3 separate regions of the Homo sapiens genome follow, and regions 2 and 3 are each linked to region 1. The links come from fine-mapping of genetic effects on gene expression. A gene starts in region 1. Each other region holds a variant in brackets. All regions are shown on one strand. Distances are between the middles of the regions.

The links. PIP is the estimated chance that this variant, and not a neighbour inherited with it, causes the effect. A credible set is the group of variants that fine-mapping cannot tell apart.
Region 2: its variant is the best candidate, but not a certain one, in a credible set for the expression of HEBP1 in whole blood (TOPMed, PIP 0.83).
Region 3: its variant is the best candidate, but not a certain one, in a credible set for the expression of HEBP1 in whole blood (INTERVAL, PIP 0.54).

The regions. Positions count from the first base shown.
Region 1 is chr12:12,997,704-13,001,904 of GRCh38, forward strand. It overlaps HEBP1 (heme binding protein 1), which reads right to left and starts at 2,562. Exons shown (of 4, transcript NM_015987.5): 1 at 2,334-2,562. The coding sequence starts at 2,411. The region is part of intron 2 of GPRC5D-AS1 (GPRC5D and HEBP1 antisense RNA 1); the gene reads left to right. It also overlaps the pseudogene HTR7P1. RefSeq lists silencers at 2,427-2,576, 2,627-2,746, 3,507-3,656 and an enhancer at 4,081-4,201.
Region 2 is chr12:12,966,234-12,970,434 of GRCh38, forward strand. The region is part of intron 1 of GPRC5D-AS1 (GPRC5D and HEBP1 antisense RNA 1); the gene reads left to right. Among named protein-coding and RNA genes, the nearest start is that of GPRC5D, 16 kb to the left of the region's middle. The variant A/G (reference allele first, on the strand shown) is at 1,895.
Region 3 is chr12:12,949,689-12,953,879 of GRCh38, forward strand. It overlaps GPRC5D (G protein-coupled receptor class C group 5 member D), which reads right to left and starts at 2,482. Exons shown (of 4, transcript NM_018654.2): 1 at 2,419-2,482; 2 at 1-741. The coding sequence starts at 696. All of the region lies in intron 1 of GPRC5D-AS1 (GPRC5D and HEBP1 antisense RNA 1), which reads left to right. The variant C/T (reference allele first, on the strand shown) is at 1,516.

The DNA of each region.
Region 1 (4,201 bases):
GAGGAAGGAATCTGAGGGCACAGGCCACGAACCAGCCCAGACCCCTCTCCGCCTGTGTGGGCCATCATCATTAATCCAAAAAGACAAAGTGAGCCCCATTCCATGACAAAAGCAAGAACACATGGATTCTTAAAGTGTTAGAATCACAGGAACCTTCATCAGGGCTGTTAGGAGAAAGGCTGTGGTTCTGAGTAGGGCAACTACTTGATGGGGAGGCCAGTGATGCTGCAGACCTTATCAGGTGCCTTTTTCATTGCCCAGGGAGGCGGATAGACAGCTCTCTGTGTTGGCTTGGGTGGGTCCTTTGGATGCTCACAGCAGGACTGATATTAATAACTGGCATCCTTATTGCATTTGTGTCCAGCCTATGCACAACTATGTCAGTTTCCCTACTCAAAATCACAGCCTCACTCCTAATACTCCCTATTCCTCACTCCCCTGCTTGCTTTTCTTCACAGCACTGATCACTATCTGATCCATGATACATTTTATTTGTTCATTAGCCAATAAAACATAAGTTCCATGAGGGCAGAGAATTTTGCTGGTTTTAATCTTTTATCCCATTGCCTAGAAGAGTGCCTGGCACATAGCACTCAAAAAACAGTTTTTGTCGAATTATTTTTAAATTGGGTGATTTCGCTAAGAATCTGGATGTATGGTTTTCCTTAAGAATTTGGCAACACTGTTTCATATATCACTGCATAGCAACAAGTGGCTGGAACTGCCGTTTAGAGATGGGGACCTGAGTTCACTCTCTGATTTGCCTCAGTCCCCACTATGCCTTATAGCCTAAAACAGCCAGCTTCATCCATTTCCATTACCTGCCTGGTTGCTGCAGGTATTCAAATGTGGGACCTCTGATCAGGGCTAAACTGTTCATTCTACATAGAGCTGGGGAAACGGAGATAAGAACAGGTGAAAGGTCTTTGGTTGTCAAAGAGTTCAGATTAGAGTCTAATTGAGGGCTTTCGTGATATGAAGATCATTGTACTAGGTATCAGAACTTGGCCCCCAGGCAATACAGTCCTTTCACAAATGAGGCATCGTATTGGGAGCTCTGTATACAGCTGCACTGTTTAAACTACCTGTCCACCAGGAGATTATAATCTAGCAGCACTCTCCTTGTTTTCAGGGGTGCAGTCCAGTTAGCCCATGTTAGCACTGATATAAATTTGGGGGAAGACAGCAATTATGCTCTTCTCACTCATTCTGTATTCTAGGTACCCAACTCCAGAGGATCTAACTGGCCAAAAGCAATGGTACAGCTCTGGGCCTTTGTGCATGCTCTTCTCTGTTGTGTGCACTCCTACACATCCCTGAGGCCCCAGCTCAGGACACTCCACTGAGGTCCCCATCATAGCCCCCTGGCAGAATTGACTGCCTCTGTGCTCCCTGCGTAGCGCATTTATATCTATTCTGCACAGATCTTGTTCTTTTACACAGTAGTCCCCCTTATCTATAGTAGATACCTTCCAAGCCCCCCAGTGGATACCTGAAACGGTGGACAAAACTGAACCCTGTATCTACTACGTTTTTTCCTATACATACATACCTATGATATAGTTTAACTTTATCAATTAGGCACAGTAAGAGATGAACAACAATAATAAAATAACAGCAATTATAACAATATGCCAGCATTGCTAAGCTTGCACTTTGGGGCCATTACTAAGTAAAATAAGGGTTACTTCAATACCGCCACGGTCGATCCGATCACCAAGCTAGCTACTAAGTGACTAAGGGCGGCTACTAGAGATAGGAGGCTGACCTTGGACAAAGGGGCATTCCGGTCCCAGGAATCAAGATTTCATCCTGCTACGCAGAATGGCCGGAAACTTAAAACTTAGGACTTCTGTATTTCTGGAATTTTCCATTTAATAGTTATGGACAAGAGCTGACCACAGGTAACTGAAATCGCGGATAAAGGGGGCTACTATCCGCAGTTCTCTAGTACTTGGGAGTTTCTTGCGACACTCATTTCTGCAACCGAGTGTCTCTCAACAAATCAAACTGTTCGGAATGTTTGGAATATTTTAAACGAAAGAATGCATTCAACAGGCAGTGCCCAACTCCCCAAGTTGGGATTCTCTCCTTGGATCAGTCTCTCCTGTTTACCCCCCTCCTCTCACCACCGGCTGCAGGGGGACCTCTCACTCCTTTCCTTCCCAGTCCAAATGCTGGGCGGTGGAGAGCCGCACTCGCGACAGACACCAGAACGCACCTTCGATAGCACATTCCTGCCCCACCTGCCCCTCAGCACCCGCTGCAGCCCCGACGAGGGTGGGGGTGGGAGGCAGCAATCCTTCAGGTCCTCGGCAGCCCTGCGGGCCTACCTTGTCCCCTTTGCTTAGGACCTGCCAAGGCCACGTCTCTACGCTTCCGAACAGCGAGTTCTTGATCATGCCCAACATGTTGTAGCCGAGACGCTCCCGACGCACGGGAGGACGTGAGGTGGCGGGGGCGACGGAGCACCACGGGCAGCGACCACCGGCGGCAGGGCGGCAGGGCGGCAGGGCGGCAGGGCGGCAGGGTGGCAGGGCGGCAAGGCGGCGGGACGGCGAGGCGGCGAGGCGAGAGGCGGGGCTAGAGGCAGGGGCCAGAGGGCGTGGCTAGAGGGCGGGGCGGCAATTCAGCCCGGCGGTGAGGCAAGGGGGCGGGACGGCGAGGTGAAGGGGCGGAGAGAGAGGGCGGGGCGGCGAGGCGAGGGGGCGGAGAGAGGGCGGGTCAGTGATGCGAAGGGCGGGCAGCAGGGCAGCAGTGCAGCAGTGCAGCAGTGCGGTGAGGCGAGGGTGCGAGGCGGCTAAGCAAGGGATGGGCCCGCCGTGGCGAGCCGCTGGGCCGTGTTCCGCCTCCTTTCGGGCTTTCCGCGGGTGTCTGGGGAGGGAACCCGGCCGCGGGCCTCAGGCCGTCCCCCTCCGCAGACCCCTTCTCTTATTCTGAGTCTAACCTATCCGCTGGGGCCCTGGAAAGCGATTCTCGCCTGGAGTGGCTTTAGGCAGCGGTGGTGGGGAACGTCCTCTCTCAGGTGCCTGGGCTCCAACCTCCGAGCCCCGGGTTGCTCACGCTTCTCCGGTCCTCTACCCGAAGGCTCGATCCCGCTGGTACAGCGGCGGCCAGGCTCCCTGTCTTGGTAGCTGTCCCTCTACCCCCGCCCCATGACCTCTTCTAGACCATTGAAAGAGCATCCAAACCACTTTCCTGCTGCCACTCTTTCCTACCATCCCTCTAAATCACAGTTTCCAGGTGACTTTTCTAAGCATGGCTTTTCTCGTTCACTCCTGTTCAAAAATCTTCTCACCAATTTTGTCACCATTTACTCAGCTGAGTGCCTGCTTTCTGTCAAGTATTTTACCAATAAATCTCTACTCCACACCACCGACAAGAAATATTTTGGAGCCATTTAAAAAGGAGGAAACGGAAGCTTCTGCCGCTGCCTGATCCTCCATTGCTCCGAGCCGCGCGGGTGCAGCGGGCTGTGGAGCCGCGGGCCGAGCCCCGCCGGAGCGCCCGAGAGCCCGCGCGTCCCGGGCGTCCGTCGGGGTCCGAGGTCCCTCCCTCAGGGAGTCCCCGCTCGGCAGCGCTCTCGCGTTTCACGCAGCGGCCGGGGATCTGGGACAGGCGGGGCCCCGAGGCCGAGCCTGGCGCTGCCCAGCGGCCGGTGCAGGCCTCAAGCTGGGCCGGGCGGAGGGGAACCGGCGAGTTGAAGCCCCGGGGCCGAAAGCCGGAGCCTGTGGCGGCCGCGGGGGTGGGGAGGGGGGTGGGGCGGCTTCTTGGGCAGCGCCACACGGCGGCGCAGTGATGGATGTTAACAGCAGCGGCCACCCGGACCTCTACGGGCGCCTCTGCTCTTTCCTCCTGCCGGAGGTGGGGGGCAGGCTGCCCGACCTGAGCCCCGACGGTGGCGCCGAACCGGTCGCGGTCTCCGGGACGCCGCATCTGCTGAGCGGGGGCCCCCGAGGTGACGGCCAGCCCGGCGCCCACCTGGGACGCAACCCCGGGCAATGCCTCCGGCCGCGGGGAGCAAATCAAGAAAGGGCCGAGAAAGTTGTGATCGGCTCTGTCCTGACGCTCATCTCTCTGCGATCGCGGGCAACTGCCTGGTGGTATCTCCGTGTGCTTCGTCAAGAAGCTCCGCCAGCCCTCCAACTACCTGATCGTGTCCATGGCGCTGGCCAACCTCTCGGTGGCCATGGCGGTCATG
Region 2 (4,201 bases), 31 kb before region 1:
CAAATTCCTTGTATGAATATGTCAAGTAGGTCACTGGATATATGCATCTTGAACATCTGGATTTATTTCTGCATTTTTGTACTTTTCTTCATGTGCCAACTTCCTGTTGGCATCCTAAGCAGGTACCAGGCTGGTGCCACAGTCAGGACACCCCTCTCCATCCTCATTCCTCACCTTTCTTTCAGCAATTTCATGAATTGGGAAACACATTCATTCATTTATCCATCCCACAATCATACACCAAGCTTTCACTATATACTGGTACACAGCTGGGAACTGAGGCTACAAAAATAAATAATACTAAATATCAGCACTCAAGAAAACCACGTCTAATTGGGGCTGGTAAATTAAACAGTTGAGATTTATGCACTGTGAAGTATGTGTAACTTGAAGAAGAAATTAATATTTCCCTGACCCTATCTCTCTTCCTACTAGAAAAAGACCCCAAAAAGAGGGTGGATCTTATCCATTCCTTAGAAGCCCTTACAAATGGCACTTTTACAACTTTTGTTATGTTTATTTTAGGTCAGGAGCAATGGCTGACGCCTGTAATCCCAGCATTTTGGGGGCCTAATCGGGCAGATTGCTTGATGCCAGGAGTTCGAGACCAGCCTGGCCAACACGGTAAAGCCGCGTCTCTACTAAAAATACAAAAATTAGCCAGGTATGGTGGCACACGTGCCTGTAATCCCAGCTACTCGGGAGGCTGAGACACGAGAATCATGAGATTAACTTGAACCCAGGAGGCGGAGGTTGCAGTGAGCCTAGATTGCACCACTGCACTCTGGCCTGCGTGACAGAGTGAGACTCCGTCTGAAAAAAACCCAGAATTTTTGTTACGTTTTTGTATCAATGAGGAATTGTTCAGTGTATGTCTCAGCAGTGAACCCATTTCTTATTTCCGCATACCTGAGGGTGACATTTTGAAAGGAGATGAGATGAAGAAAAAAATTAAGAAGAGAGATGGGCTGTAAATAAATAGGAGTCAATAGGTCATGGATGGTCACAGAACCCATGTGCACGATTTTCATGGTCATGGATGACCTGCTGTTGGGAGTGGGCACAATGACATGATGCAGCCAGTAGAGGGTAGAGAACCCTGTCCTGGGGACACCAACATTTAGGGCTGGGCATGGAGAGATGCGCTTATGAAAGAAGTGGGGAGGTAGTCTGAGGCAGGTGCACCTGGAGAATGGCAGGTCACAGGTACCAGAGGAAGAATACCAGGGAGAAGGAGAGGTCTCAGTATTGAACAGTACAGAGAAGCTGTTCAGCCTGATAAAGGCCAACTATTCTGGACTTCATGATGATCAGTTTCAGAGAAAGTAAATGTCAATGAGTGGAGGAAATGAGGGGGAAGGATGTAAACACTCTGTGTAAAGTCATTTGTAAGACAATTTATAGAGGTAATGAGAGAGCTGAGATGTACCTGGAAAGCAAGATTAGATTGAAGGAAGATGTTTTTTGTTGTTCTAATTAAAGAGATGTGAGCATGAATTTGTGTTGAGAAGGAGGAGGCAGAGACCAGGGAGAGACTGAAATAACAAGGACAGAGTAGATGGTAGAATGAAATTCCTGAGCAAGTGAGAGACCTGGCCCCCAGCACAGACGACACAATGAGCTTTGGATGGAAGGTGGGACACCTCATCCTCTGAGAGAGGGAAGGAGGCAAGGGTAGTGTTCCCCAATGACCGAGAAGCCTCTTCTCCTAATAATTAAATCAACTCTCGTAAGTCCACTTCCTCCGTGGAGCCTTTGCAGATACATCCAAGTGCTGAAGCTTCCTTTTGATTCTTAGAATGGTTGAGGCTTTGCTGGGCTCTGCCTCCAGTTTAGGGCCCCCCTCATAAGACACATTCTGCTCACACCGGCAGACACCCTGGTGTGAATCCAC[A/G]ATCTGCTAGCCCCTAAGAAAGGGCTCTAAAAAGTAAGCAGAGACAACAGGATCACAAACATACATTATATATTCAGAAGTATGTCATAGACATTATGTAAGAAGGGGCAATAGTCTTGTGTTTGTATTGGTGGCATAAGAATTTCTTTTAGCTGAGTTTTACTATATGAGAGAAAACAAGGGCTGCTAATTTGACAAGCGGCAAATAGGTTGCTGCTGGGTATCTATGCTGCTTCTGGAGTTTTGATCTCATGGAGTTTGTTCATCTAAATTCCAGGCAGTGGCACATACCCTAGGGACACAGGGATTATCTCACTGCCACTCTGGCTGAGCCACGGAGTAAATTATACAGGGATGAGGGAACACCCACCCAGCATACTCACTGGTAGATTCACACCCTGTCTTATTTCCTTTCTTGCCAGCCAGGGAAACCAGCCATTGAACTAAGCATTTAGTGTTGTACTGCAGAGCAGATAAGAGCATGGGCTCAAATTCTGACTCTGTCACGGATCATCTGCGTAGCCTGGAGCATGCTAATGAGCCTCCCAAAGCTGCCCCAGTTCATCTGTACATGGGGTAGAGATGACAGTGCTAGTGAACACCTCATAGGGCTGTGTAGAATACATAAGGTAGTCCATGTAACAAGTTTGCACAGTTCCTGGGACGTGGTGAATGCTCAATGAATATTAGCTATCAGTAGCTCTTATTTTTTTAAAATTCCAGCCAATCTACATTAATACAACTGAGCATCTATGGTGCACACATCCTTTATGCTATGGGTGTGGGGTGGGGATTATAAATCATAGAGAAAAAGGAGTGTTCCTGAAGAGACCAAGGAAGAATTCAAAGACGTTTGAGCTGGACTCTAAAGGGATTGGGGATTGTAGGTATGGGAGCAGTGTGAGTGAAGGCATGAAGGAGGGGCGGTGGGGAGGCTGCCAGGGGAACCAGCAATAATTCCAGTGCTGCTGGAGGGTAAGGAACCCAAAAGGGAGCAAGAGGCAGGATATGAGAAGAGGCTGGGGTTTGAGCCCACTCTTGAAACGACTTTTTTGGCTGGGCGTGGTGGCTCATGCCTGTAATCCCAGCACTTTGGGAGGCCGAGGTGGGCAGATCACTTGAGGTCAGGAGCTCAAGACCAGCCTGGCCAACATAGTGAAACCCCATCTCTACTAAAAATACAAAAAAATTAGCTGGGTGTGGTGGTGCACGCCTGTAGTCCCAGCTACTCGGGAGGCTGAGGCAGGAGAATTGTTTGAACCGACGAGGTGGAGGTTGCAGTGAACCGAGATCGCACCACTGCACTCCAGCCTGGGCGACTCAGTGAGACTCCATCTCAAAAAAAAAAAAAAAAAAAAAGACTTTTTGATGAGGGTCTAATTAATTCATTGCCAAGGAGAGAGGAGGTCTTTTTACCCGAAGTTTGATTATGCAATAGCTCTTCATTGCCTACACAAATTTTTGCCATACCTTCAGCCCATTCTGGCATTTCCACCTTACATGGTTTGATTCTTGATTCTGAATTTGCGGATATTGTTTGGGTCTGTCCCCAATTCCTCTAGAATAATGTTGCTATAGAAACAAAATTACTTCTAAGGAAAAAGGCTAGAGCTAGTTAGAAATATAAATTCAAAGGCAAGATCCATGGCATTCAATCAACTATATACCCACCAATGCGGCATGCTATGAAACTTTAATTACTGTGCTCAAGATCAAAGTAACATTACTCAGGAGTGGAGAAGCCAAATGTAATTAAGGAGGTCTTTCTTAAACAAGTGATGACCAACTAACTCCCTGAGCTCAGCCAGGCCTTCCACTGTATTTATATACAGTCACCCAGGGCCCTTAAACACTCACATGAGCATGAGAATGTGGTGTTGTGCTGTGGGACATCCAGAACAAATTTTACTGGGTGAGGCTCACAAAACATACAAGGAATATTCATGCCTCGGGAAGATGGCTTCTGGAGGAGGGAAAACATCCTTATATATGCTAATCTGCAGAGGCAGCAGCTTTATTTATTTATTTATTTATTATTTATTTTTTTTGAGACAGTCTCGCTTTGTCACCCAGGCTGGAGTGCAGTGGTGCGATCTTGGCTTACTGCAACCTCCACCTCCTGAGTTCAAATGATTCTTGTGCCTCAGACTCCTGAGTAGCTGGGACTACAGGCACATGCCACCACACTTGGCTAATGTTTGTATTTTTAGTAGAGACAGCATTTCACCATGTTGGCCAGGTGACTCTTGAAGTCCTGACCGCAAGCAATCCACCCGCCTCTGCCCCACAAAGTGCTGGGATTACAGG
Region 3 (4,191 bases), 48 kb before region 1:
CTGGAACTGCGGGTTGCCTCTCAGGAGCATGGAGATCCACACCACCCAGATGATGATGGAGAAGAGCACAGTGATAAAGATGAGCCTTCCATGCTGCTTCCAGTTCTCACACGGGCCACAGAAGGTGGCTTTGGAGACGAAGAATGTGAGGGCCATCAGGAAGAGGACATAGACCAGGAGTACAACAAAGTCCACATTGAGCTGGCAGGGTGTCATATTCACAAACATCATACCTCTGGTCATGATGAGAGTCACATACTCAGTGGCAATAATGATTTGCAACAGACTGCAACCAATAGCAATGCACAGAATTGTCGTCCAGGAGAAGGAGACACAACCCCGAACCAGCTTCACTAGATTGGAGGCATGAGCTAAGAGGCATGAGAAACAGAGAGCAAAGAGAACCCCAAAGAGAAAGTAGCGTACGGGGGCAGTTTGTTGATTGAGCTCGATGATGAAGGCAAAAGCGAGTCCGAAGAGCCCCAGGACACTCAGGAGGAAGAGGAGCTGGGTGGGGAGGACATTCCACTGGCTGCAGTCTTGGATCTTTCGCATGAGGAAGAGAAATGCTAAGAGTAGCAGAATTGTGACCACGATGCCAAGTATGGCCAGGGACTCCAGAATGATGCCCCATGGCCCCTCGGCGTCACAGAGAAGAAAATAGTCTCCAGTGGACTCGATGCAGTCCTTGTACATGGTGACTTATGGGTGTGGACCTCACCAGAATGGTTTTCTGATGCCCTGCAGAAAAAGGATGAGACAAATTGACAACTCTGCATCTCTTAGGTTGGTGCAAAAGTAATTGTGCTTTTTGCTATTAAAAGTAATGGCAAGAAGGCTGGGTGCGGTGGCTCACTCCTGTTATCCCAGCACTTTGGAAGGCTGAGGCGGGCCGATCACTTGAGGTCAGCAGTTCAAGACCAGCCTAGCCAACATGGTGAAACCCCATCTCTACTAAAAATACAAAGATTAGCCGGGTGTGGTGGTGCACACTTGTAATCTCAGCTACTCGGGAGGCTGAGGCAGGAGAATCGCTTGAACCCAGGAGACAGAGTTTACATTGAGCCGAGATTGCCCCACTGTACTCCAGCCTGGGTGACAGAGTGAGACTCTGTCTCAAAAAGCAAAAAACAAGGCAGGGTACAGTGGCTCATGCTTGTAATCCTAGCACTTTAGGAGGCCAAGGTGGGTGGATCACTTGAAGTCAGGAGTTCAAGACCAGCCTGGCCAACATGGTGAAACCCCATCTCTACTAAAAACACACATAAAAAATTAGCCGGGCATGATGGCATGCGCTTATATTCCCAACTACTTGGGAGGCTGAGGCAGGAGAATTGCTTGAACCCAGGAGGCAGAGGTTGCAGTGAGCCAAGATCGCACCACTGCACTCCAGCCTGGGCGACAGAGTGAGACGCTGTCTGAAAACAAAAACCGAAAAACAAAAAACACACAAACAAAAAAAGTAACGTCAAGAACCGCAACTGCTTTCGCACCAACCTAATACCTACAAGAATG[C/T]CTATTGGGTGGTCCATGCTGGGCACTGTAATTTCTCTCATTCTGAAATGAAGACACCTGGGCATATGAAATAAATGTCCTTACCAAAATTGTTCCTAGGACACTGTCAAGAGCCTGAGTTACATTTTGTTTGACTCCTGATACTTATCTAAATGCTAAGCTTCCCTGGGGGAAGAAATTCAGAGATATATGCAAACATAGTCTAAGGGGATGGGAAATGCCATCACACATATTACCCCAAATTTATAGCAGTTTTATATAGGATGTCAGTAAAGGAAATGAGAAAGGCAACCTAAACCCTTCAAAACTATCTTGGCTTCATCCTGCTGGGAAAAGCTGAACAGGCTTCACTTGATAATATGTCCATTTGTGTATGCTAATTTCCAAGGCTTTGAAAGCTAATACAAAATCTTTTTCATAAAAGGAGGTGTATGAGAATGTTTGCATGATTGATGGAATTCAGTTATATCAGACTCCAGAACAAGGACTGCCAACATTAATGGATCATTGGATCGTTCTAGACACTGATGCACTGCTTGAAGGAGACAGGCAGATAAATTACTGGGAATAAAATTTCCCAGTAATTTTAATGACTGTTCCTTCTTTCAGTTAATTCAAGTCAATCCAATGCAGCAGGTTGTAGTTAAACACCTATTGTGTGTTCATCAAAGAATTGTACAAAATGGTCCCTTTCTTTAAATACCTTTTTGAACAGTTTAGTACGAAAGTCCATGTCTTGACTGAGGTAGCCTAGGAAAAAGATCCCACATATTCATTTGAAAAAAAAAAATCAATTGCAATTGAATACCCCTTAGCTCTACTTCCCTTCAGTTATCCCCAGACCAGATGGCTGGAGTGACCCAGGTTTACAGCTGAGAACATGGCCCCCCAATTCCAACTTACCTTCTCCGTGTCCACTCTGGAAGCTTAGGCTGTAGTGCTGGCAAAGTTGTAACTGCCAATGAGTAAGAAAGAGCCAACCTCAGCTTCTTTAATCTCTCCCCAAATGGGCGGAAGAACCGTAGGCTCTCACTGAGGTTCCTGCAGTATCTATAAAAAGAACCGGAAGGACAGAAAGACACACCTATTCCAGTTTCACAGCAACTTTTCTACAGAGATTTCCTTGGTGAGAATAATTCTTTTTCATTCTACTGCTGACCAGAGGCACCTTGGCCTTAGGGAGCGGGTGTAAATCTGAAAGTGGGTATAAATCTAGGAAAGACGGCTTCCTCCCTGTGTATTGCAACACATTCAGGGAAGCTACACAAGGCCCTCAGGTGACTTACACCAGGATACCTCGTCCTTCTTCTGACCTATTGCCTAAAAAGCCATCTCTGGAGACTTTCTCACATCTTGATTTTTTTTTTTTTTTTTTTTTTGAGATAGAGTCTTGCTCCATCACCCAAGCTGGAGTGCAATGGCACGATCTCGGTTCATTGCAACTTCTGGCCTCCCGGATTCAAGCAATTCTCCTGCCTCAGCCTCCCGAGTAGCTGGGATTACAGGCGCATGCCACCACATTTTGTATTTTTAGTAGAGACGGGGTTTCACTATGTTGGCCAAGCTGGTCTCAGACTCCTGACCTCGTGATCTGCCCGCCTTGGCCTCCCAAAGTGCTGGGATTACAGGTATGAGCCACCTTGCCCGGCCCCCACATCTTGATTTTAATTCAAAAGAGCATCCATTCAACAAAGTACAGGTAATGAGGTTTCACTGGGCCATAAGGAAGGGTGGTTTTGTCTACTACTGGCATTAAAATGGCCAGTGGCAGGCAAAACTGTGAATCAGTCTGTGAATTTATCCCAAGATAAAGAACTGACAATTAAAGGTCACCGGCTGATACTTGAATACCATATTCCTTTTCTTCTATGGTGACACAAAATACAGCACAGCACAGTGTCCAGCCTACACCCACCAACCGCACCCCGCCACCTCCAATTTACTCCTTGATTTTCTTCCTGAATATATGTTTGTTTTTTTTTTTTTTTGAGATGGAGTCTCGCTCTGTCGCCCAGGCTGGAGTGCAGTGGCGCGATCTCGGCTCACTGCATCCTCCGTTTCCTGGGTTCAAGTGATTCTCCTGCCTTGGCCTCCCGAGTAGCTGGGATTACAGGTGCATGCCACCACGCCCGGCTAGTTTTTTATATTTTTGGTAGAGACGGGGTTTTACCATGTTGGCCAGGCTTGTCTTGAACTCTTGACCTCAAGTAATCTGCCTGCCTCTGCCTCCCAAAGGGCTGGGATTACAGGTGTGAGCCACCACACCCAGCCCCTGAATATATGTATTTCGACAGAGGACTGCTGAAGACCCCAAACCAGTGTCTGGTTTCAAGGTGCTTGTGATCTGGCTCTCCCTTTCTTACCCACCTGTACTTCCTTCACATCTCCAGGCTCTATGGTTTAGCCTCCTTGGTTTTCCCACTGGCTCACAAAAAAAATAAGTTCCCAAGTGCTCACCTCTGTCCCTGTCCGAAACTGCCTTGTGCTTGATTCCCATTTATCCTATTTTTGACCCAAATTCATTCCCTCCCTGTAGGATTTTCTTCACCTTATCTCCTCTATGACTCTTCCTGCCTTCCCTCATCATTCTAGACCTCGCTGATCACCTTCCACCAGGAACTATACAAGACTTGGGGTCTGTTCTGTTCAAAATTACAGAAACCCTATTTTCTGCCT